Homo sapiens: one gene and its partners. Changing the gene in region 1 together with any one later gene gives a genetic interaction. Each region holds a gene or a part of one and is shown in the gene's direction. Other genes may lie near its edges. The genes, in order: VPS54, RAB1A, ARMH3 and EIPR1.

Region 1 (7,476 bases):
AAAATAAATGCTGCCAACAACCTGAAGGAGACTGGAAGCAGATTCTTCCTCAGTCAAGCTTTCAGATGACAATACAGGCTGATGGATGCTTTGATTGCAGCCTTGTGAAACCTTAAGCAAAGTTAAGTTGTGCTGAGACTCCTGACTCAAGAAACCATGACATAATAAACGTGTGTTGCTTTAAATTGCTAAATTGGCGATAATTTGTACATACCAATAGAAAACTAATATACCATAGTATCTTGGTTTTTCCCTATGCTTGGGGTGCAGTAAATTCTTAGTAGATTACAGCTGCTATTATTATAATAATCAAAATGGAAATCTGAAATATCGAGGTCAAGAAAAAAGTTAACAGAGAAATTTAACAGAGTTAAATAATTGCTTCCAAAGTAACCAAGCGGCTGGTGTAGAAGACAAAAAGATGATATGTTGAAGACTTGTATATTACTCCCAACAAGTATTGAGTACATTATCATCACCACATAAAATATTATAAATTTTCTAGTGGTGCTTATATCTACATTTAGCTTTAATATCTTACACCATACTCAAAGTAAACTGGAAAGTTTTCCTACATTAAGATAGTCCTATATTACCTATGAAGAAATATCAAAACACAGTTTCAGGTTAGAGTCATATTGTTATAAATTATCATTTATATTTTTATATACTATATATTAGCTGTATCAAAAATTGTAAAATTTTTTAAATTATAAAAACACATATAATTATATATTTATATATATAACATTTAAGAATAGCTCAAATATGATGCATAAAATAATTCAGGACATTATTGGATCCAAACCCTAATGAAACAATTACCAGCTTGACACCTTCAGTTCATTAGTGCATGTAAATCTTGCTTATCAAAGATAGCTTATTTATACTAAACACACAATATAATTACACATATTTAGCTGTAGAGTAGGTTAAGAATGTGGATGGGTTTCCATTGCATAGATTCAAGGTTTGCTATCACAGAAAAAAGAAGCTAGTGCTTCTATCTTACTAAATTGGAAAATTATTTTTCTCATTGTTCATTCTATCAGTGCCCCCTTTCCCCTCTGTATTTATATAGCACGGGAATGTATAGTTTCTATCAAATAAATCATTAGAAAGGCAATGTTCAGGCCGGACATGGTGGCTCACGCCTGTAATCCCAGCACTTGGGGAGGCCGAGGCGGGCAGATCGTGAGGTCAGGAGATCACGACCATCCTGGCTAACACGGTGAAACCCCGTCTCTACTAAAAATACAAAAAATTAGCCAGGCGTGGAGGCGGGCGCCTGTAGTCCCAGCTATATTGGGAGGCTGAGGCAGGAGAATGGTATGAACCTGGGAGGTGGAGCTTGCAGTGAGTCGAGATCGTGCCACTGCACTCTAGCCTGGGTGACAGAGCAAGACTCCATCTCAAAAAAAAAAAAAAGAAAGGCAGTGTTCAGTGATTGAGTAGCTATGTTAACCTTACTACTGCCACCTATACAAATATGCACAGAATACACAGTAAACATAAACATAGCCCTTTTATAGGTGTTATGGCATTAGAAAATTTGCCATTCTCCCTCTAATTAGAACATATAACCTTGATGGACTATCACTTTTCATGTGATTGGTCGGTAACAGATATAATAAATATGCCAAATACAGTGTTAGTGACATGGTAGCTAAATATTTTCTTCCTGATTCCTTTTTTTGAAGGCAATGATGGAATCTTAACTCCTATCCATTTCTTAATTTTGTATTAATTTCTTAATTTTCTATCATCTGTGCTTTCTGGAAATGTACACTAATAATATATCTATACCTATTTATTTGTGATTTGGCTTTTAGCTCTCATACTGACTGAAATGATTCAAGTGATAGCAAGTGAACATAGTAATTAATTTGAAATTTATCTAGGTTTAAATGAAATTGCTTGCCCAGTTTACACACTTTAAAAAAATTTTTGCAAACCTGATCATCAGCATTTACTTTCCTGTTTAGATTCAAGATTATGAATTGTTCTGTGGAAAAGTAAAAGTAAAAGTAAACATTGAGCTGGATCTCTGAAAGAACTAAGCACGACACTCAATGTGTATTTTCTTCCTATGGTATGTTATCAACAGATGGATAATGAGGAAGCAAACCAGACTGTCTTGTTCTAGTGTCTGGGAGACAACTGACGGCTATCATTTAGTCCAAGTGCCAAGTTGGAATCTTTTCTGGAACAAGGTGGGGTATAAACACAAATATTTTTTTAAAGGCCAAACCAGCCAGGCTTAAGGAAGTTTTTGAACTGTTGTTGACTTCCTGAGGGGGGTCAAAATATAAGAATTTGCTAAATCCAATTCCTAGCATAATCTATGAACTGATTCTAGACATAAAGAAAAATTATTTTCCTTTCTGGCCTTAGATAAAACTTGGTTAATCCTCTTGTTAATATTTTCACAGTATAAACACATCTTTTTTAATAAAAAATTTTTAAACTGACAAATAATAATTATATATATTTATAGGATCCAATGTGATGTTTTGATATATGTACACACTGTGGAATAACTAAACCAAGCTAATTAACATATCTTTCACCTCACCTACTTTTTTTTTTTTTTTTAAGAGATGGTGTCTGGCTATGTTGTCCAGGCTGGACTCAAACTGCTAGTTTCAAGGCATCCTTCCACTTCAGCTGAGACTACAAGTGTGGGCCACTGTACCCAGCTTATTTTTTTTATGGTGAGAACATTTAAAATGTACTCTTGGCTGGGCGTGGTGGCTCATGCCTGTAATCCCAGCACTTTGGGAGGCTGAGGCAGGTGGATCACGAGGTCAAGAGTTTGGAGACCAGCCTGGCAAATATGGTGAAACCCCGTCTCTACTAAAAATACAAAAATTAGCTGGGCGTGGTGGTGCGCGCCTGTAGTCCCAGCGGCTCGGGAGGCTGAGGCAGGAGAATTGCTTCAACCTGGGAGGCAGAGGTTGCAGTGAGCCAAGATCATGCCACTGCACTCTGGCCTGGGCAACAGAGCCAGACACAGTCTCAACAAAACAAAACAAAGAAAGTACTCTTTTAGCTATTCTGGAATATTAAATACATTGTTATTAACTGTGGTCATCGTGCTGTGCAATAGATCACTAAAATTTATTCCTCCTACCTGAAACTTTATACCCTTTGACTCACATTTCCCCTTTCCTCATCACCCTTTACCCCCCAGTCTTTGGTAACCACCATTCTACTCTGCTTCTATGTAAACTCATCTGGTTTTATAAGTGATCAGGGATTTAAGAGGACTTCACTCTTTTACAGTTAAATTTATTTCATATTGGGGAATGATTTTCTCACTTTGTTTCTTACATAATTTTAGAGGATTGAACTTAGAAAAATATAATGTAAGAGTTTTCTCTCAACTATTTTTGATGCTTCCTTACTTTTTGTCCTCTTTCCCCAACTTTAGCTCTTTGGTGGGGAAAATATTATTTCATAAAAGTTATGTTTGCAGTTTTCAAAGTGACTTCTTAGAAGTGAAACTTGGATCAACATTTTTTTCAACCCCCCAACTATAAGAGTTACATTTTCACTTTTGATTTGTTAAAACATACTATGTCTTATAAATGCTTGAAATTTATTTTTAGGCAAGAATTTCAACATTGAATAAAATCTTCCCAAAATTAAGTCACAAGCACTCAAAGGATTGAGGATCTTTTTCTTCCTAAAATATATGTGTGTGTGTGTGTGTGTGTGTGTCTTTATATTTATATACTAAGACCTTCCCTTTCTTGTGGACTGTGTTTTATTGGTTTAAAGTTGCAAGTCCTGTGAAACCAGGCTGAAGTCAGAATTAGAAGGTATTAATTATCATACACACTCCAAGTATCTCAGTCAAGTAACAGGAATAACTGATTACAGTGTCTGGGAGGAAGGCCTGGAACTTGGGGAAGACTTGGAGGGGAGGACTGGATGGGGAAAAGGCCTCAATAGAGAGAACTGGGTTGTTGCGGAGGGGTGACCTTTAACCTTTGGAAGGGCATTTACTAGGGAACAGCTGAAAAGCATTTACTTCGAGGGGGTGGGGGAGAGGAGGAATCTCGTGGAAGTATTTGCTTTAATAGGTCCCGGGTGATTTAGGGATGTTTCGAGTCGGTTGGTCTTGGGGGTGGCGAGGGCTACGCTGGAGGGGTCGCGTCCCAGTCCCGGGGAAGGCGGCAGGAGGTTTTCTGGGTGTTCCTGAAAACTGGGAGTTGGGGGGAAGGGTGGTGGGGAAAGTGGAATTCAGCGTGGATTTGTCTGCGTGTAGGACTATTAGAGGAGGCGCAGGGGAGCCACGCGGTGTATTCCCCGCCCCGAGAGAACTCTGGCTGCGCCTGCGACGGGCACGCCGGCCTGCGCCAAGGCCGCTTTCCCCAGGCGGCGGGCGCTCCCCCCGGCCCGGGCCGCGGCCCTCCCGCCCCGGCGGAGCCGCGCGGTGGATTGTGGGCTGGGGGCTGCGGCGGCCTCCGGCGCTGTCTCCCCGCACCCGACCGGGCCGAGCCGGCTGGGCCGGCGGGGTGAGGGAAAGCAGTGGAGTCGGGAGCAGAAGCGCTAGAGGCAGTGGTCGTGGCGCGGCGGCGGCGGCTCCCCTGGAGGCCGGGGATGTGGGAGAGGCGGTGGCAGCAGCGGCGGAGGCGGCGCTGCGGACCCGGGGGAAACTGCTGGCTGACAGGACACCCGGGAGAGACGTGAGGGAGCCGCCGCTGCCACCTCTCACCCCTGAGTGAAGCTGGGCTCGAGAGGGCGGCCCTGTGCTCCCCGGGCCGACTGGCCAGCGGGCGCGGGGCGGGGGCGGGAACCCGGGCTCGGGCCCGGCCGGGCGCCGGGCGGCGGCGGCCGTGGAGCAGCAGCCTCGGTGCGACGTGGAGGGCTGGAGGCGGCGGCGATGCACTAGGCCTCGCTCAGGGCGGCTGCCCCGGGACCCGCAGGTAGGTGTGCCCCGCGGCCCCCCGCGCGTCTCAGCCCACTCTCACCCCGACCTACAGCGGAGAGAGGGACCGAGACCCCACCCCCTCGGCTCTCCTCCCCAGCCCCAAACGGACCGAGTTTCGGTCACAGCTGACCGGCACTGAAGCTTCCATGCTCCTCTCCGCCACTTCCTTTTTTTTTTTTTTTTTTCCTTTTCACTCTCCCTCCGGGATCGGGGCTGGCAGCTGTGTTCCCTGCCTCCTGTCAGCGACCGCAAACGCCGCTCTTGCCCCTCTCTTATCTTTCCGGGATCCCAGCTCTGGAACTTCCATCACCCCCTTAGACGCTGCCCCCAAACTTTCCTTTTCTTTTTCCAGCCAGGCCCTTAGTCCTATTGGATTCTACTGGAATCGTTAAAACATTTGTTTGTTTTTCTCTCCGGGGAAGGCTAACCCAAAGAGTTACTCAGTATTTTGCATTTTGGCAATGTAGCTTGAAATAATTTGTGCAATAATTTTCTTCAGTTCTGCCTCCTTCCATCTCTGCATAGACAGAAAGGGCAGGCCCTCTCTGCCGTTTCTGCTCTCCCGTCGTTGACTTGGGAACTTTGGCTTGCCAATTATAATTAGCCGTTTGGTCTGTTCATGTGTTGAGTTCAAGATGGTATTTTTAGCATTTTGACTGACAGGCGTTTCAAAAAAAAATTTTTTTCTTCTAACCAGCTTTATTTTTTGGTCTTTATTGAGGCTCTTTCGAAGAATTAAATTGTTTGGACTGTTTTTGTTTTTAATTGGCTGTATTTCTGATTTGTCAAATCAAGGGCGGTCTTAATACTAAACGCCTTTAAGTAATACCGTGATAAATTACTTGTAGTATACCGAGAAATATTACTGCGATAACCTAAACTGCAGATTTTGATGTACATTCACTTTTATAAATCCGAAGGGGAGTTCTAATTGGAAAAAGCACCTTCAGAGCCTAAATGATTTCTAAGCAGTTAAATGATGGAACAGAGGGAATGATGGGATTTGTTTGACTGTATTTGTAGTGTAGTCAGAATCGGATTTCCTAGAAATGGATGTTGATGGTTCGTAGTGCTCATCATTGCTTATGATAGGTTACCAGTAGCTGTAATTGATAGTTGTTTGGGACGACAGTAGATGTTTGCGATTTTATTGTAATTTGGCTATTTTTAAATTATGTTCTGATAACTTAAGAATTATTACACTACCAATCTAAGAGGCAGTCTGAGGATCACTTTTTTAAATAAATGAAAAATGTTTTAATGGGTTTTTAAAATAAAGAATGCATCACAACCAAATCGTAAAGACTGTTTTGTTGTTGATATTCGTATATTTTGTTCTTGTAGAAGTATTGTTACTACAGCATTTGGCTTTCTGAAGTGTTTTTGAAATTAGAATTTAATACTAAAAGTTTACTAGGAAAAGGTGATTACTTTTGCATATGCTTATATTTTCTGGAAAGTTAAAATTGATTTCTGGATAAGATAATTTTTTGTGTCAGAATTAAAGTCAATTCCTATATAGCCCATGAAACGGCAAATTTTGCAGAATTTCTTCATCACACTCTTTTTTTTTGTTTCTTTTCTTTTTTTTTTTTTGAGACGGGGTCTTGCTCTGTTGCCCAGGCTGGAGTGCAGTGGCGCTATCTTGGCTCACCGCAACCTCCGCCTACCGGCTTCAAGTGATTCTTCTGCCTCAGTCTCCTGAGTAGCTGGGACTACAGGCGCCCCCACGCCTGGCTGATTTTTGTATTTTTAGTAGAGACGGGGGTTTCACCATATTAGCCAGGCTGGTCTTGAACTCCTGACCTTGTGATCCACCGGCCTCGGCCTCCCAGAGTGCTGGGATTAGAGGTGTGAGCCACCGCCCCGGCCCCGGCCCATCACACTCTTTTTTTTTTTTTTTTTTTTTTTAATCAACAAAAGTTAATTACAATTCCTCTTTCCTGCTCTTTGCTTTTTAAAAACTGCTTTATTGAGATAAAATTAACATACCATAAAATACACCCATTTAAGGTGTACCACTTGGCCGGGTTCAGTGGCTCACACCTGTAATCCCACCACTTTGGGAAGCCTAGTCAGGTAGATCACCTGAGGTCCAGAGTTCGAGACCAGCCTAGCCAACATGGTGAAACCCCGTCTGTACTAAAAATATATAAATTAGCCGGGCATGGGGGTGAGCGCCTGTCATCCCAGCTACTGGGGAGGCTGAGGCTGGCGAATCGCTTGAACCTGGGAGGTGGAGGTTGCAGTGAGCCAAGATAGCACCACTGCACTACAGGCTGGGTGACAGAACGAGACTCCATCTCAAAAAAAAAAAAAAAATATACAATTCAGTGGTTTTTAGATTAAATAATTGTGCAACCATCACCATAATCTAATTTTAGAACATTTTCATCATTCCCTCAAAAAACCTTTATCCATTAACAGTTACTCCCCATTCTCTTCACCCCACCCCCAGCTTTAGGCAACCACTAGTCTACTTTCTGTCTCAATATTGGCCTAATGTGGGCCTTTCATATAATGCTTCTTGGCTCATA
Region 2 (7,033 bases), 1.1 Mb from region 1:
TAATCCCAGCACTTTGAGAGGCTCAGGCAGGGGGATCACTAGAGGTCAGGAGTTTGAGACCAGCCTGACCATCATCACGAAACCCTGTCTCTACTAAACGTACAAAAATTAGGCAGGCGTGGTGATGCACGCCTGTAGTCCCTACTACTCAGGTGGCTGAGTCATGAGGATTGCTTGGACCCCGGGAGACAGAGGTTGCAGTGAGCTGAGATCATGACACTGCACTCCAGCATGGGCAACAGAGCAACATCCTGCCTCAAAAAAAAAAAAAAAAAGAAGTACTGTTACATGGTACAACATGGATGAACCTTGAAAACATTCTGCTAAATGAAGGAAGACAGACACAGAGGGCCACATATTTTATGATTCCATTTATACGAAATGTCCAAAATTGGCAAATCTAAAGAGAAAGTAGATTAGTGGTTGCCAGGGAGTGAAGACGGGTTCTTTCTGGAGTGAAGAAAATGTCCTGGAATTCGTGGTTGTAGTTTGCAACCTTGTGAATGTATAAGGACCACTGAATTGTCCACTTCAAAAGGGTGACTTTTATGTTATGTGCATTATATCTAAAAAAAAAAATCATAATTAGGAAGCAAGATTGACTTCTAAGAAAAAGCGGAGTGAAATTGTTGTTTTGTGGTGAATAAATTGGGTGGGTGGGTCGCAAGAGTTTTGCTGATTAGTGATTAGAAAAATTATTCATAATCATTGAAAATATAAAATATTTTTCTATATGATGTATGTAAAGAATTTGGCAAGAGATGATGTTTGGAAAAAATAAAGAATGGCTATTGTAGAGATCTTAAGGAAAGAAACTACAGTTAAGTAGTGCTTTGTAATCAGAATATGAAGTAAGTACTGAAAGTGGATGGAGTGGCTGTTGTCAGCATGTTATACTTTATACATTTCATTCATAAATTTGGACTGTAGATAAAAGTAAACTTTTTTTTTATTTACTCTTGAACAACAGTTTTTTTTTTTCCACTTAGACTTGCATCTGCTCCACTGAACAATACATTTAATTGTTAATTATTTCCCCCTTCAGGATGATACATATACAGAAAGCTACATCAGCACAATTGGTGTGGATTTCAAAATAAGAACTATAGAGTTAGACGGGAAAACAATCAAGCTTCAAATAGTAAGTGACTTGGCTAGTAATTTTTTTGAAATTTATTTTGGTAAATTTGTAATGTATTGTTATTTTGTATATATTTACTATGCTAACAAAATTGAATGTAAAATGTCTTAAGATTCATGTACTTAAGATAGAATGGTAGAATAAGAATTACTTAGATTAAAAATAATATTTTCAAGATTACTTAAGCCTCATTGAATTTTCTATTCATGAAGCAGAGAAACTCATGTTTTAAGTCAAACTTGGTCCTCATCTTTTTCTTTTATCAGTGGAAATCTAAGTTCAAGTTTACCTTGTCCTACACTGCAAATGTTATAGACCATTTTTGTTTGTCTTTTACTGTGCTAAGTGCATGGAACATTAAAGGAACCCTAGGAAGAGATTCTTCATATGTGGCTCAGTTGAAGAGAAGTACTTATGTAGTTCTAAGTATTTTTATTAGATAGTGTGCACCAACTCTGTAGAAACACAGAATTTTGTTGGAAAAAGGAACTTAGTTTTTGTAACATGTTCATTTTACTGCTCAAAAAAACGAATGCTGAAAGATTTAATGACTTGCCTACAGTTACTGGTAGAACCAAGTGACCGAAGCTCTGTCTTCAATATTTTGTGTCTCTGTGCCATCCTATCCCCCTTATCCATCTTTACACCCCCAGCCCCCAATTAAATATAGGCAATTATAATAGTTCAGTTGTGCCTCTTCAGTATGGGTCTGAGTCCTGTCAGTGTGGGCATATCTGTGGTCTTTTAAAAAATAAATCTCTCAGTATTTTTCAGAGTAGGCTATTAGCAAGAAGTAGGCTATAAACACAGGAAACCAGTGACTGCCCCTTTTCATGGAACTGATGACACATGGAATTGGAAGGAGTCCTGCATTAGGAGTCAGAAGACTTAGATTTGTTGTCTTGGTTCTAGTATTTACCTGTTAGAGAATCATGGGTTTGTGTCTCTGGGGAAAAGGCCGAAGTAACCCTGAGACCCAGTTTCCTTTCTAAAATGTGTGTGATGACACCTGATTTACTAATTTATAAGCTAGTTGTGAGAACCAACTGTAATAGCTTTGTGTATGTGACAATACGTGTGAAAGCCCTTTGTAAACTTTTGGGCAGCATATAGATACTACTTATGATATGACATGCCCAGATAAATGGGTGTTTGATAGGTTAAGTTGCTCCCTTTTCTTACATGACTCTGATGAGGAAAAGAAGGTATGTTAACAAAAGATAGGTGGCTGTGGATATTGATATAAGTAAACACACTTGATGTGTCAAATTAGGACTTGCAAGGATTTAGTTTTCAGAAATAGCTTGAAATACTTTCAATCAGTGAACAAATTACCCTCCATATTTTTTCCCACGATATAAGTACAGTCTCAACCTTTTATTTGGCACCATAAAGAGCACATAAAGATCTACCCAAAACTGTACTTTAAAGCACTGGTATGGAATAATTGTATTATGTGTGATCATTGGTGTTTATAAGATTTGGGTGTGTATTCGTGTGTGAAACATTCATATTTTGTTACTTTCCTGTGGCTGGAAGGGATCTTATAGGACACTGTCTTTCATCTTTGTCTGTCTTTCATCTTTAATAGGAATTTCTTTTCCATGCCTGAAGGCCTCATTTTGAACATTTTGTTTGTTTGTTTTTTTATTTTTTGAGATACAGTATTGCTCTGTCTCCCAGGCTGGAGTGCAGTGGCGCGATTTGAGCTCACTGCAACCTCCGCCTCCTGGGTTCAAGTGATTCTCCTGCCTTAGCCTCCCTAATAGCTGGGATTATATGTGTGTACCACCATGCCCGGACAATTTTTTTTTTTTTGAGATGGAGCCTTGCTTTGTCGCCCAGGCTGGAGTGCAGTGGTGCAATCTTGGCTCGCTGCAGCCTCCGCCTCCCAGGTTCAAGCAGTTCTCTTGCCTCAGCCTCCTGAGTAGCTGGGATTACAGGCGTGCGCCACCACACCCTGCTAATTTTTTGTATTTTTAGTAGAGACAGAGTTTCACCATGTTGGTTAGGCTGGTCTCGAACTCCTGACCTCGTGATCTGCCTGACTCGGCTTCCCAAAGTGCTGGGATTACAGGCATGAGCCACTGTGCCCAGCCTTCCGATAATTTTTGTATTTTTCGTAGAGATGGGATTTCGCCATGTTGGCCAGGCTGGTCTCAAACTCCTTACCTCAAGTGATCCACCCGTCTTGGCCTCCCAAAGTGCTGGGATTACAGGCGTGAGCCACCACGCCTGGGTTTTTGAACATTTTTAAGAAGCTTACCATTTTTTCGAAATAGCTAGTTCCATTTTACACATAACTTCAGCTAGGCATGTTGCCTCATGCCTGTAATCCCAGCACTTTGGGAGGCCGAGGTCAGAGAGTCACTTGAGGCCAGGAGTCAACATAGCTCCTGTGACCAGCCTGGTCAACATAGAGACTCTATCTCTACCAAAAAAAAAAAAAAAAAAGTAACCAGGTGTGGTGGTCCATGCCTGTAGTCCTAGCTCCCCAGGAGACTGAGGTGGGAGGAATGTTTGAGCCCAGGACTTCAAGGCTGCAGTGAGGCAAGATTGCACCATTGCACCCCAGCTTTGGGGACAGAGTGAGAGACCCTGTCTCAAAAACAAAATAAGGCTGGGCGCAGTGGCTGTCCGGGCGTCGTGGTTCACGCTTATAGTCCTAGCACTTTGGGAGGCCAAGGTGGGCAGATTGCCTGAGCTCAGGAGGTCTAAGACCAGCCTGAGCAACATGGCGAAACCTCATCTTTGCAAAACATACAGAAAAAAACAAAAAAAACCACAAAACCTCTAGTTGCCAGTTATTTTTTTTATTTATTCCTAGTGATTCTTCTTTTTTTCTTTTTTCTGAGACAAAAATTTCACTTTGTCTCCCTCGCTAGAGTGCAGCGGTCAGCTCACTACATGATTCTTTTAGAGACATGTTAATTCTTTATATTGAGCTGAAGCCTGTTTCTTTTACTTCTGTCTCTTCTTATTCCTCCGCCTTGTAGAGCTGCCTGAATCAGATTAATTCCTCTTTTATTGGCAAGCCTGCCCTTCAGATTGATCTTATCACAACCTTTCTTCTACCTCTGAAGTCCTCATTCTTTCCTGTAATGATATTTTCAGAACCTTGTGCAATTTGGGTTATTCTTACATTTTATAAATGCCTTTTATTAAATTTGATTTCTTAAATCAAGTATGAGATATAACACATGAGGTAAATCCTGTCTTGATTTGGAGCCTGAATGAATTTCTCTCTTGAACTTCAAGGGCTCATGGCCCTTTCTTATTATTAATCAAAGACAACCATTTGTTGTTTCAGTAGCTATATTATTTCTAGTTTGGGTCTTAAGGTTTTTGATTTGCTTGTTTTTTCTTTTTTCTTTTTTTTTTTTTTTGAGACGGAGTTTCGCTCTTGTTGCCCAGACTGGAGTGCAATGGCGTGATCTCGGCTCACTGCAACCTCCGCCTCCCAGGTTCAAGCGATTCTTCTGCCTCAGCCTCCCTAGTAGCAGGGATTACAGGCATGTGCCACCACGCCGGGCTAATTTTGTATTTTTAGTAGAGATGGGGTTTCTCCATGTTGGTCACGCTGGTCTCGAACTCCCGACCTCAGGTGATCCGCCTGCCTTGGCCTCCCAAAGTGCTGGGATTACAGTCGTGAGCCACGGCGCCTGGCCGATTTGCTTGTTTTTAATTAAAATAGGGGCCTTGGCCAGGTGCAGTTGTTCACCCCTGTAATCCCAGTACTTTGGGAGGCTGAGGCAGGCAGATCTCTTGAGTTCAGGAGTTCAAGACCAGTATGGGCAACATGGTGAAACCCTGTCTCTACCAAAAACACAAAATTCAGCCAGGCATGGTGGTGTGTCCCTGTAGTTCAAGGTACTCAGGAGGCTGAGGTGGGAGGATTGCTTGAGCCCGGAGATGGAGGTTGCGGTGAGCCAAGATTGTGCCATTTGCACTCTAGCCTGGGCAACAGAGCGAGACCTTGTTTCAAAAAAAAAAAAGAAGAGGGTCTCACTTTACACTTCTGTGACTGGTGTTTTAAAAATCTAAACACAGGCCGGGCACGGTGGCTCACGCCTGTAATCCCAGCACTTTGGGAGGCAGAGGCACGCAGATCACAAGGTCAGGAGTTCGTGACCAGCCTGGCCAGCATGGTGAAGCCCATCTCTACTAAAAATACAAAAAAATTAGCTGGGCATGGTGGCAGGTGCCTGTAATCCCAGCTACTTGGGAGGCTGAGACAGGGGAATCACTTGAACCCAGGAGGCGGAGATTGCAGTGAGCCAAGATTGCGCCATTGCACTCCAGCCTGGTGACAGAGCGAGACTCCGTCTGAAAAAAAAAAAAAAAAATCTAAACACAAGATTTTACTTTTAATCCTATCATTTCCTCTTGCTTGGCTTCAGTAATCCTTCAAGTTTTCTAGGTCTTTTCAAAATCTTGATTCTGTTGATTTATATTTTAATTATCTTTTCCTTTCAGCTTTTCCTGTTCAGGTGTGACATCTGGGTCTTTATCTGAGTTTTATTAGATTATAAAACATTCAGCAAGATAGGGCAGGTACTGAGTCCAGTTGTACACCATGGAAGGCCTCTTTCTGTGATTGTTCATTCATGAGGCTTTATGAAAATGTCTACATTACACCAGGCACTTGGAGGTTACAGAGATGAATAAAACATAGTCCATTAGGAGGCAGACAATGGGAGAGACAAACATGGGAAAAAGTTACTCTGATTATGAGGAGTAATGAGAATTACATATGAAGGAAAGTATTGTTAGTACTGTTAGGATTTAGTGTCAGGAAAGTTTTCAGAGTAGCAAGGAAACATCAGAAATTTTACTCTTTCTGCCAGGCATGGTGCATGTATTATTCTGTTCTCACACTGCCACAAGGAACTGACCAAAACTGGGTGATTTATTAAAAAAAAGGTTTAATTGACTCATAGTTCTGCATGGCTGAGGAGGCCTCAGGAAACTTACTGTGGCAGAAAGGGAAGCAGGCACGTCTTACATGGCAGGAGGCGAGAGAGTGTGAAGGAAGTGAAGGGGGAAGAGCCCCTTATGAGACCATCAGATCTTGTGAGAATTCATTCACTATCACTTGAATGGGGGAAACCGTCGTCATAATCCAATCACTTCTCCATAATCCAATCACTTCCCTCAGTGATTACAACTTGAGATGAGATTTGGGTGGGGACACAGAGCCAAACCATATCAGTGCCTGTAGTCCCAGTTACTTGGAGGCTGAGGCAGGAGGAACACTTGAGCCCAGGAGTTCAAGATCTGCCTGGGCAACATAGCAATACCTCCATTTTGGATAAAAAGGAAATTTTACTTTTTGGGTGCCATTGCTTACTTTAATCAGCTGTAACTTCTTGTTGACTTTTAGTCAAAAAACAATTTTTCCTTCTATCTTTGTGAAAGAGGTTGGTGAGCAAGGAAGAAAAGGAAACTTGCTTTATTGAGCAGCTTCTATAGTCAGGCACATTTTACAAACATTAGTTCATTTAAACCCCTTTAGCTGTTGTACAAGGTGAATGCTATCTAGCATTTACAGATGAAGAAACTGTTAGGTGACTCTCCCTAATATTAAATAACCAGGAACCTGGATTTGATGTTTTGAAGTCAGGGTAGCTTGATCCTCGAGTTCATGCTTCCTCCAAGGATACACTGAAAGACTTTGAGCCTCTTTTTTTTTTTTTCTCTTTTTTTGAGACAGGATCTGGCTCTCTTGCCCAGAGTGCAGTGGTGTGATCTCAGCTCACTGCAACCTCTGCCTCCTGGGCTCAAGCGATTCTGCCTCAGCCTCTCGAGTAGCTGGGACCACAGGCGCACGCCAGCATACTTGGCTAATTTTTGGATTTTTAGTAGAGACAGGGTTTCACCATGTTGGTCAGG
Region 3 (7,033 bases), on another chromosome or scaffold:
TAGGGAAGTTATTGGTCCAGCTGGCAAGACTCCAGGGCAAGGTTTCTTGGCATTTGGTACCAGATAATCTGGGACTGATTTTGAAGAGATAAATCTAGGAGATTCTAGAATCTAGGCAGATTCAGAAAGTCTGTCTTTCGGGCATTATTATCCAAGTATTCAGCTCTAGGGCAAGACAATTTTTTGGTTAGTTGCAAGAAGTAGTTGCCCCCTCTCCTCCTCCACTTCTGCAATTCTTTTTCCTCCACTGCTTACGAATTGTTCCTTCTGCCTTCTCAGCCTGTTCTCAGGAAGGGGCCTGATAAACTCTTTAACTCCAAAATGTAAATGAGTGAAGTCTCTCAGGGGCTAGAGAAGTATGAGTTTTGTACTGGTGTTTGATGAAATGAATTAGATACAATTATACTGCTCCCAGATATCTCTGCCTTTCAGTCAAGTTTTCAGAAAGTTTTGTACCAAACACATGAAGCTCTAGGAGCATAGGTTTGTGTATAGTTTCAAGCATAATTAAGGAGGTGGAAGAGGTATTTTTTAGTGGGTGTAGGCATCTTAGTGCTTCTGATATCATACACATTAGAGGCAGCCTACTCCATTTACTTATTCACTTGCTCTGACTAGGACACAAACTAAAGATTTTGTTATCTGAAAAATGGAGAGTGGATCTCATATAGACAGCTTTGGTCTGAAACCTGAATATTGTTCCCAAAGATAGCTTTATGTTGGTTGAAGTCAGCCTGCTTCCTGTGAAGTTTTTCCTAAGTTAGTTTCTGACTTCAAATAAGCAACTTCTAGGAAAGATACAGAGTGATGAAGATGTGTAGGTTAACTGTCAGAGGGACTAAACTTACACACTGAAAAGGAGAGTTGGACAAAAGTACTAGGCTTTTTCTTTAAAGCGAGGTGATTTAGTAGGCAAGATGATTTACTAGGCAAGATGATTTAGTAGGATTCTCATTATTTCATTTATTACTTATGAGTCTTTTAAGATTTTCAAAGTGGGCTGGTTTTGGTGTGTGTGACTTATGGCCTAGAGTTCCAAGTTCTCCCCAGGTGGAAGCAGCTTGTTTTCTTCACTGATAAAAGGCTTCCTAGGCATAAAGCTCCTCTCATATCCTCCTGCTATAAGTTTGCAATTCCCCTTTTCTTCCACAGGTGGGCAGCATGTTCATAGCAGATGCCCATGAGAAAATCTCAGTACAGTAAGTGCCTGACATTCTTGTGCAGTGACTTGGACTTTAGTGTGGGCTGTCCTGCTGGATATGAGAGTGTGCAGTGTTACCTCTTGCTAATCTTTTACAGAATCATACTTTTTTGGTGATTTTCAAATGTTTCATGGGTTTTGAACATTAATGGACCCTTAGAAATTTCTGCTTTTCATATGTATTGAGCGACAATAAGCTGAACAACTGTTGCCAGACTATCTCTGCAATGAAACAAAAGAGGGATGGGTGTCTGAGCCAGTTGAGGACTTAACTGGGTTGAGGTGGAAAAACAGAGGGAAGATAATGAAGTAGATGAGAACTGGTCCTAAGGAATTAAAGTGAAGGCCCTGACTCCTGCCTATACACTTTTGCATACGCCCAAATGGCAAGTAAAGGGGAACTTTAGAAATGCAAAGGAATTGATAATGAGGCGCTGGGGTGCAATCCAATCTTATCTTCATGGTTATACTGTTTTAACTCCCCCCACTATAAAAACTGCTCCAATTTGTTCTCTTTTTCTTTAGAACCAATGAGGCCATTCTTCTGGCACTTTATGAAGCTGTTCATTTAAATCGCAACTTCATCACAGTATTAGCTCAGGTTGGTCACATTAAAAATCCCAGTGTTTTTTTCTCTCTAAATTTCATACCGATTAATTCCATTGAAAAGCCTATCTGGCTGTACTTGTTTAAACCCTGCTTTGCATTGGTAAGTGGTAGTAACAAGGAGTTGAATCAGTTGCCTTTGTTTCCTGCTGTCCTCAAATATGTATGTTTCCATTGGTGCTGAAATGGGTCTAATAACGTGCAAAGTTAGTTTTTTTGGCCAATTTATTGATCCTGTTAACCCAAATGAATTGTCATGACTTCATTTTGCTCACTAGAAATCCCTGGTATTATCCGCTATGTGGATTTTTATATTGGGCTTTCTGCTTTCCACACCACTGTGGAATTACAACTGGAGATAAAATAGGCCAAGCCACTCACCTTATTATCTCACCAATTTCCAGAGGAAAAAAGTAAAAAATATCCTGGCCAGGTTAAGGTTAGCTGTTAACAGATAACGTGGTTTACATACATTGAAAGGAAGTCATAGAATACTGAGCGCTGGGCCCTGCGCTGTGGCTCACGCCTGTAATCCCAGCACTTTGGGAGGCTGAGGTGGGCGGATCACAAGGTCAGGAGATCAAGACCATCCTGGCTAACACGGTGAAACCCTGTCTCTTCTAAAAATAAAAAAAAAATTAAAAAAAAAATAGCTGGGCGTGGTGGCGGACGCCTGTAGTCCCAGCTACTTGGGAGGCTGAGGCAGGAGAATGACGTGAACCCAGGAGGCAGAGCTTGCAGTGAGCCGAAGTCGCGCCATTGCACTCCAGCCTGGGTGACAGAGTGAGACTCTGTCTCAAAAAAAAATAAAATAAAAACAAAACATAACAAAATAAAACAAAATAAAAAAACAAACAAAAATACCCCCAGAATACTGAGCGATGGGTCACATGCCTGAGGGATAGCCACAGTAATTGGCATAGAAGAGGACTAAAGTAGACCAAGAACTCAAGAGCTGTCCATGAAAGCCATTTTAAAAAATTGATAAAGTGTTATTATCTTAAAGCCAGACTGTTTAAAATATGTATGTAGGGTTATTTTAAGGGAAAGTTTGCTTATGCTTTTTCTCAAAGGGTAGATGTATATGGAATCTATTGATTTGAATTTTAACACAAAAATAAGGTCATGCTTAAAAAGCATCATGCTGGTTTGAGATCTGCTTCATAGAACACTTAAGAGTTTTCATGACTGATAACATAGAGACTTTAGTTATTATTTTCACTCGTTTCTTATCTGCTCTCCAAATCCTATAACTGATTGTAAAGGAAGAGGTGAGGAAGGTAAAGTGCTGGTAAAGCTGTTAGGGAAGAAAAGGGAAGTTAAAAACAGCTATCACTCAGCTTAATTCTCAAGAGCTGATGTGGGAGGGATGGCTAAGAAAGGTTAGGGACAGAAGAGTCATCTGTTTTGGTCCCTACTGGGTGTCTCACCATGTCTTTGCCTCCCAATGAAGGCACACACACTTTTGTTTGTTGTGGAACAGGAAGGCCGCCATCTGAATAGCTCTTTTGCTTTTTTTTTTTTTTTTTTTTTTTGGAGATGGTGTCTCGCTCTGTCACCCAGGCTGGAGTGCAGTGGCACGATCTCTGCTCACTGCAAGCTCTGCCTCCCGGGTTCACGCCATTCTCCTGCCTCAGCCTCCCGAGTAGCTGGGACTACAGGTGCCTGCCACCACACCTGGCTAATTTTTTTTTTTTTTTTTTTTTTTTTTTAGTAGAGACAGAGTTTCACTGTGTTAGCCAGGATGGTCTTGATCCCCTGACCTCGTGGTCCATCTGCCTCGGCCTCCCAAAAGTGCTGGGATTACTGGTGTGAGCCACCGCACCCGGCTGAATAGCTCTTTTTATAGTACCTGGTATCCCCTTGACTCATCTACATCTGCTAGTCAATTATTTGGTTATCAGAACAGCCTATTGATGTGTTTTAGGTTGATCTGATGAGATCCCAGGTCTGGATGGGATTGCAAATGTTCTCTGCTCTCTTGTAGAATAATCCTGTATATTTGTTGACCCCAGTTTTTTTTTTTTTTTTTAAATGTCTGTGGTGCCACAGAAAAACTTATGTAATGGGAACCTAGTTGCTTAAGATAAATTAGCACACAGAGCTTATTAGAGATTAGCAAGCATCAGTCGTAATCAAGTACTCATGAGAACGAAATACAGAAGTAGTCCCTTCTCAGCTTTTTTTTTCTTTTTTTTTTTTTTTTTTTGAGATAGAGTCTTGCTGTGTCACCAGGCTGGAGTGCAGTGGCGTGATATCACCTCACTGCAACCTCCGCCTCCTGGGTTCAAGTGATTCTCCTGCCTCAGCCTTCCAAGTAGTTGGGACTACAGGCATGCACCACCATGCCTGGCTAATTTTTTGTATTTTAGTAGAGACGGGGTTTCACCGTGTTGGCCAGGATGGTCTCGATCTCCTGACCTTGTGATCTGCCCAGGCCTCCCTAAGTGCTGGGATTATGGGTGTGATCCACTGTGCCCAGCCTCAGTGAGCTTTCTAATTATGAGACTAGGGGCACAGTGGCATGCATCTGTAGTCCTACGTACACAGGAGGCTGAGGCAGGAGAGTGCTTGAGCCTAGGATTTCGAGACCAGCTTGGACAACATAGCAAGATGCTGTCTCAAAAAAAAAAAATTATAAGGTCCAGAATACCAGTCCTTATTGGTATTAGGCACTTGATACTCAGGGAGAACTGGATTTTCTGTTTTCTTACACATCTGTGTATCTTTTTCAGAGCCATCCAGAAATGGGCTTGGTGACGACCCCTGTCAGTCCTGCTCCTACAACCCCAGTCACACCACTTGGGACCACACCGCCTTCCTCTGATGGTGAGCCCACCACCACTTTGTTTTTCTTGGTTAATATGATCTTAGATCTCTCAGAGTGAGCATAGCTGTGTTCAACAAAGAACCTACGTAGTTGTTAATTTTTCCCACTAAATTGGTCTGTAGTACTATCCTTCAGGCCTCCTAAATTTCCAAAGAAAACTTTGGAAAAAGACAGTCCAGTGATTTTCTCTGTAAAAGAAGCTTACATAACTCTAGCTTTTCCTCCTCAGGGAGTAGTTGTAGAGGCATGGAGTGCTAGACCTGCAAGGTCAGTAATGCCTGTCCTGCCACACTCTCAGAGTCCTTGTGAGGCTCAGATGAGATATTTTGTGAAAAATGTCACCTTGTGATTATAAAGCACTGAAATGAATGTAAAATAGTAATGTTATCTGATGTTACCATTTGATCAATGAGGGAATTAAGGCCAGAGAAATGAAGCAGTTTGCCTAAGATTAGTGAGAGTAGAGACTGAGAACCCAAACATGTAAGCAGGATCTTGTCTATTTTGTTTACTACTAAATGCCTAGCATAGTGCCCAGCATGGTACTTGCTTAATAAATATTTGTTGAATAAATGAATGAGAATGTGAACCTGGCACTCACTCACTGTTATGTGTCTATCAGCCACTCCCAGTTGGAAAGGACAGGCTTTGAGTGTATTATAATTGGGAGTTTGGTGGATACGTAAGATTTATCTCCCTCAAGACAACAACGGTGAAAATTTCCCCTTCATAAATCTTATGGCTGGAACCTAAGAAAAAGGCAACAGAAAAGAAATTATGAATTTTTGCCAAAAATTTTGAGGTCTATTATAGGCTGAGTGTGTTTGGTGGAATATTGTAACCTAAAAACAATCTATGTTAATATTTGATGTTGTAGCTCAAAGATTGACCTTGTTTTGGTAAAGAAGTACAGACAATCCAACTTTGATACTTTCTTTTTGCCTCCCCACTGTTTGTACGTGAAATGACCTTCTTTATTCTTTCTCTCCTTTAAGTTTTCATATACCACCCGTGGCAGTAACATTTCCAGGCAGTATAAACAGTACAGAACTATGACAGGGAGGTGCCATTGTTAGTTATATATATGGTAGCAAATTGGATCTGTTTAGAATTGAAAGCCAAATCCCAAAATATCTTTTTTTTTTTTTTTTTTTTTTTGAGACAGAGTCTTGCTGTCATTTAGGCTAGAGTGTGGTAGTGTGATCTCGGCTCACTGCAACCTCTGCCTCCCAGATTCAGGCGATTCTCATGCCTCAGCCTTCTGAGTAGCTGAGATTACAGGCATGTACCACAATGCCCGGCTAATTTTTGTATGTTTATTTTTATTTATTTATTTGTTTTTGAGACGGAGTCTCGCACTGTTGCCTAGGCTGGAGTGCAGGGGTGCGATCTCAGCTCACCGCAACCTCCACCTCCCAGGTTCAAGTGATTCTCCTGCCTCAGCCTCCCTGGGACTACAGGTGTGTGCCACCATGCCCGGCTAATTTTTTGTATTTTTAGTAGAGATGGGGTTTCACAGTGTTAGCCAGGATGATCTCGATCTCCTGACCTCGTGATCCGCCTGCCTCGGCCTCCCAAAGTGCTGGGATTACAGGCGTGAGCCACCACGCCTGGCCAATTTTTGTATTTTTAGTAGAGATGGGGTTTCACTGTATTGGCCAGGCTGGTCCCGAACTCCTGACCTCAGGTGATCCGCCTGCCTCGGGCTCCCAAAGTGCTGGGATTACACCCATGAGCCACCATGCCCAGCCCCAAAATATCTTACTGAGAAGGAGCAAGTAGTAAGGATTGCCTACTTGTCTCTGTTTATTCAGGCCACAGAATAACCCAATGGAAATACAGTACTTTCTCTTTAAGAATGAACCCTGCCTGGTTACCATGGATATCAAAAGCCATATATATATATATGAGTTCCATGTGATGTTGGGGTTTGGATGCTTCAGAGAACTGCCTTTCAAACTGTTCATTGTGAACACTTCCACCCACACACTTGATTATGCAATGGTAGGATTTGTGCTTACTTACCTACAACCAGTGAGCTTTTATTTTTTCTAGTGGGAAGATCAAGTCAGCCCACTTTCAAATGACTGTCTCCCTTGACAAAAGCTGCTGGGAAGAATTATGAAGCCAAAGATCAAGGAATGACTCTTCCTTAGGAAGAAGATTTTAATTTGTGAGGGATTTTATTCTGTCTCTGTTCTATTTGTTCTTTTCCCTGTCTCCTAACTCATTTCCTTCTGTAGGGTTCCTAAGTATTACAACCTTGTTTTTAATTTTTAGATCTTAATTATAGTGGTGTTCAGTAGCCCACTTATATTTAAAGGTATGTCACCAGAGCCATATTTTTAAAAGCCGGCAGTTTAGCTATAACATTTGTTCTCAGCTCAGACTTGACA
Region 4 (4,382 bases), about 61 Mb from region 1:
TCCTGTAGGTTTCAGCCAACATTTAGTCTTCCCTGTCTGTCTCTTGGGACTTAAGAGAAACCTGCAGTAAACCCAACCTCAGCGGAAAACTGCCTTATGTCAGGCCCTGTGACTGGGGGCCGATTGCCTGGCAGTGCCTAACGTGAGCCCCAGCCTAGTGGGGCCCTCAGAGCCGGTGTGATCCATTGTTGGTGTTGCCTGCGGGTGACAGTTCATTTCAGCAGCTGCCTTGCCCTTTGCAGGGTGTGGAACGTCCGCTACAACCACTCTCATGACCAGCTGGTCCTCACGGGCAGCAGTGACAGCAGAGTCATCCTTTCCAACATGGTGTCCATCTCGTCGGAGCCCTTCGGCCACTTGGTAGACGACGATGACATCAGTGACCAGGAGGACCACCGTTCTGAAGAGAAGTAAGGGCACGCACTGCAGAGTGGCTCACGCTGTACCAGAGCCTCCTGTCTGCACAGCCATCTCCCGAGCCAGGCTGTGTATGTAGAAAGTTTCCAGGAGTGCATTTGGGGGACACTCTCCTTACCCACTGCAGCTGTGGGGACTCACAGTTCCAGGGGTGCCGTCATTAGCAGCCCAGGTGGGAGGCACTGCAGGTGCGTTAGGGTTAGGTGCGGTTTTAAAATAGATCTATTTGTGTTTGTATTCTTATTGAATGCCATCTGTAAGATTTAAAAGACTCACTGGTCTTCAAACTTGAGCATGAATAATAATAGAACGAATATATCCCAATCCTCACAGCACTCCCTGTAAGAGACGCATCACAGTCAGTGTCTTCACTGGCGTGGATTTGAGCGTGTTGGGGTCGGGTTGTTGGCCATCAGCTCACGGGCCTTCCACTGGCTGGTAGCAGGGCGGAGACTCCAGGCCAACCTTCCCAGTCTCAAACCCGGGTCCTACTTCACTTCTAGATACTCTACAAAATGTGGTCAACCATGATGTGGGTTTTCTAGTCACACCATCATGGTTCTGGATTTTCCCAAAGCTTTTTCCTATGCACCTTGATTTCTGATCCTAGGTGAGATGGGAGATCGCTAAGGGCAGCCTCTTCATGCCCGCCTCTGGTCAGCGGTGCAGTGCCAGGGCCCCTGTGTCCTTGAGCAGTCCACCTTTAGAAGTGGCAGCCGCTTCCTGGGGGGTGACTAGATGCAATTCAGTTGCAACCGCAGAGATTCTTGCCCCAGGTTCCAGAGGAAGGAGGTTCTGGAATAAAACCTTGTGAAGTTGGACAGAGCCCTTAGATACGATGGGGTCTGTCACTCTGTTTTGGGATCCTTTGCACTGTTTTTTGTCTGAATTCTCCCCCTACCCACCTGAGCTTGGTCTAAAATTCCTCTGTGAGAAGACCTCTTTCTTCAGACCCTCTCTGCAGTGGCGATGGGACCATCTGATTGTCTCTGTCTTCGGACCCTCTCTGCAGTGGGGATGGGCCCATCTGATTGTCTCTGTCTTCAGACCCTCTCTGCAGTGGCGATGGGCCCATCTGATTGTCTCTGTCTTCGGACCCTCTCTGCAGTGGCGATGGGCCCATCTGATTGTCTCTGTCTTCAGACCCTCTCTGCAGTGGCGATGGGCCCATCTGATTGTCTCTGTCTTCAGACCCTCTCTGCAGTGGCGATGGGCCCATCTGATTGTCTCTGTCTTTGGACCCTTTCTGCAGTGGCGATGGGCCCATCTGTTTGTCTCTTGACTCTGTTGCCTTTGTTTTGTTTTTGAGACAAACAAAAACAAACAAAAAAGTCACCCAAGCTGGTGTGCAGTGGCACGATCATGGCTCACTGCAGCCTTGACCTCCTGGGCTCAGGTGATCCTCTCACCTCAGCCTCTCAAGTAGCTGAGACAACAGGCCCATGGCACCATGTCTGGCTAACTTTTTGTAGAGACAGAGTTTTGCCATGTTGCCCAAGCTGGTCTCAAACTCCTGAGCTCAAGTGATCTGCCCACTTCAGCCTCCCAAAGTGCTAGGATTACAGGCATGAGCCAGACTCTGTTGTTTTTCTGTTCAAACCTTAGAAACTCGGTCTGCCATAGAATAGTATTTAAGCACACGCACGGTAGCATCTGCCCAGTGGTCTCTCGGTGCCTGTGGGCCTGGCTCCCTTTACCGTCCTCTCTGCCAGTGGCCCAGGGAGTCTGCACTTCCTCACCATGTCTGTCCCTGTTAGGGGAGGAGCCTGATGGGCCCGTTGGTCGGAAGACTGCTGGCGTTGTCTTCTGGGCGGCAATGTCATGGGAGCAAGATAGGAAGGGAGGAGGTGATCGGGGCTACGCAGACTTCTTAGGACATCCCTCAGTCCTGATGTCCTGCTGCATTCAGGAAACCATGATTCCTCCTAAGGATTTGCACCTGGCATTTGTCCCACAACAGCAGTTGACCACTGGCAGGTCCACTTTGTGGGAAGCCAGCTTCCCAGAGACCATGCGAGTTCTGGAGGGTCCGTCTTGCTGGGGGGGTGAAGCATTTTCCTACAAAGAAATGCAAAAGCAGTTAGAATGCGGTACACAAATTATGTGGGAATTTTTTTGTGAAATGGGAAGTAAAGTGCCAGAGAAGCCTGTGTCCACCGGAAAGTGGCCGCTGTGAGCCGGGCAGGGCCCCCTCCCCATGCACGCTGTGCTGAGGAAGTGGTGCTTCTTGTGTGAGGATCCCCTGGTCAGGGCTCCCAGTGAGGGTAACTCACAGTCAAGGGAGGCGAGGTGGGAAACACCCTGGGGGAGGCCAGGCAGGTCACGCCTCTGCTGCTCCCACAGGGCCAGGGCGTCTTCCTCTTGGTGTCCTGGGGGATCCTCAGCCCAGCCCCACTCCCATCCTAGCAAGGCTCCTTGTGCCCCAGCCTCTGACTCCTACACAGCCAGGAGCTGGACCCGCTGCTTCCCAGGGTCCTTTCTGCTCAAGCAATAGGGGCGTTTACATCCTGTGTTACCCAGACACGGTGACTACTTCCCCCAGTCTTTCCCCTGAGCTAAAGGAAGCCCTTGGAAGACCTCCAACAAAATATCAACCCAGGCACCCGGGGGCCAAGGACAGAAGAAACCAAGACACCATGTGCCAATGTCGCCGATTTCCATAAACCTTTTGAGAAATGCCCACTCCTCACAGTGACAGTGAGGGTTTCTGGGCTTCTGCAGGGACCACCCCACCGTCCTCGGTGTGGGCTCCTCTAATTCTTCCCATCCCACAGCGGAGAAAGCTGAGGCCCCAGTACCTCCCGTGTCTCCCGATGTCAGCGCTCGCGTCCTCCCTGCCCCTCTCCTGCCCGCCCCGCCGGAGCTGCTGCGCTCACGTCTGCCTCTGTTGCATTGCAGGAGCAAGGAGCCCCTGCAGGACAACGTGATCGCCACCTACGAGGAGCACGAGGACAGCGTCTATGCCGTGGACTGGTCCTCGGCTGACCCGTGGCTGTTTGCCTCCCTGAGCTATGACGGGAGGCTCGTGATCAACAGGGTGCCCAGGGCCCTGAAGTACCACATCCTGCTATGACTCCCGGGCCTGGGTTATCCAGGTCCCATTGAGTGGTTTTCCTCTTGGCAGATTCTCAAACAGTCGCAGCTCTTTGGAGGTGACTCGTGTTCCAGGTGGATCCCTCTCTGGGAGAGCCGCTGTTCCCTTCCTGTAGCAGCAGCATTTATGAATGGGGTGAATGGGGCTATTGTCGACGGCACAGCTAATGCCCGAACCCAGCCCCTGTCGGCAGAGACAGAGCCCCACATTATTATGTGAATAACAATGTTTTCTGTTTTAAGGGTGTCAGGAGTTTCGCTTTTTAAAAAAATGTCTGTTCCTGCAATAGTAACTCTTCTTTCTCTTGAGAGTAAAAAATGAAATAAAATAAATCCACGCTGCACAGGTGCTCGGCTCATTCTTTCAGGAGCTCTGCCCTGTGACCCCATCTCCTGGGTCTTTGTCCATTTTCTCTTTCCTGACCCAGGGAAAATGCAGATGGACAGACGTGTGCTGTCTACGCCGCCCTAGCATGGAACTCCCGGGAGCCATGCTGGCTGCTGGTGGGCACCTGGCTCGCGCCCTGGGCTGAGCTGGTGTGATGCATTTTCACTGCTGTAGACGCAGGCTCTGCCCGCCCTGGGCCTCCCCTGGTCTCTGCAGCCCATCCTGTGCTGTGTCCTGCCCACCTTGTGAGCCGGGCAGGGCCTCCTCCCCACGCGCACGCACTGGTGGCCTTGGAGGTGCCGTCCTCCCTCACCTCGGAGCTTGGGGTTGGGCTCCCGCGTCTCAGTTGTCGGGGACCCCTCACAGGCTCCTACACTCATCAGTGCTTATCCTTAGGAATCCTCAAACACTGACCTCGCAGCCTCTGTTCGTGGTTCCTTTGGGTGTGCGGGGTCTGTTCTCTGTGTCTGGTGCGTGTTCCCAC

The links.
Region 2: changes in VPS54 (region 1) and RAB1A are lethal when combined (synthetic lethality), as found in Homo sapiens cells (one study listed by BioGRID).
Region 3: changes in VPS54 (region 1) and ARMH3 are lethal when combined (synthetic lethality), as found in Homo sapiens cells (one study listed by BioGRID).
Region 4: changes in VPS54 (region 1) and EIPR1 are lethal when combined (synthetic lethality), as found in Homo sapiens cells (one study listed by BioGRID).

Annotation. Positions count from the first base shown.
Region 1 is NC_000002.12:64,016,396-64,023,871, reverse strand, and holds the start of VPS54 (vacuolar protein sorting-associated protein 54), read left to right. Parts: upstream 1-4,443; 5' UTR 4,444-4,934; intron 4,935-7,476. UniProt on the Homo sapiens protein: Acts as a component of the GARP complex that is involved in retrograde transport from early and late endosomes to the trans-Golgi network (TGN).
Region 2 is NC_000002.12:65,092,079-65,099,111, reverse strand, and holds part of RAB1A (ras-related protein Rab-1A), read left to right. Parts: intron 1-1,045; coding exon 1,046-1,141; intron 1,142-7,033. UniProt on the Homo sapiens protein: The small GTPases Rab are key regulators of intracellular membrane trafficking, from the formation of transport vesicles to their fusion with membranes.
Region 3 is NC_000010.11:102,004,143-102,011,175, reverse strand, and holds part of ARMH3 (armadillo-like helical domain-containing protein 3), read left to right. Parts: intron 1-1,152; coding exon 1,153-1,199; intron 1,200-1,726; coding exon 1,727-1,802; intron 1,803-4,542; coding exon 4,543-4,636; intron 4,637-6,692; exon of another isoform or gene 6,693-6,810; intron 6,811-7,033. UniProt on the Homo sapiens protein: Involved in GBF1 recruitment, Golgi maintenance and protein secretion.
Region 4 is NC_000002.12:3,188,442-3,192,823, reverse strand, and holds the end of EIPR1 (EARP and GARP complex-interacting protein 1), read left to right. Parts: intron 1-242; coding exon 243-410; intron 411-3,315; coding exon 3,316-3,490; 3' UTR 3,491-3,854; downstream 3,855-4,382. UniProt on the Homo sapiens protein: Acts as a component of endosomal retrieval machinery that is involved in protein transport from early endosomes to either recycling endosomes or the trans-Golgi network.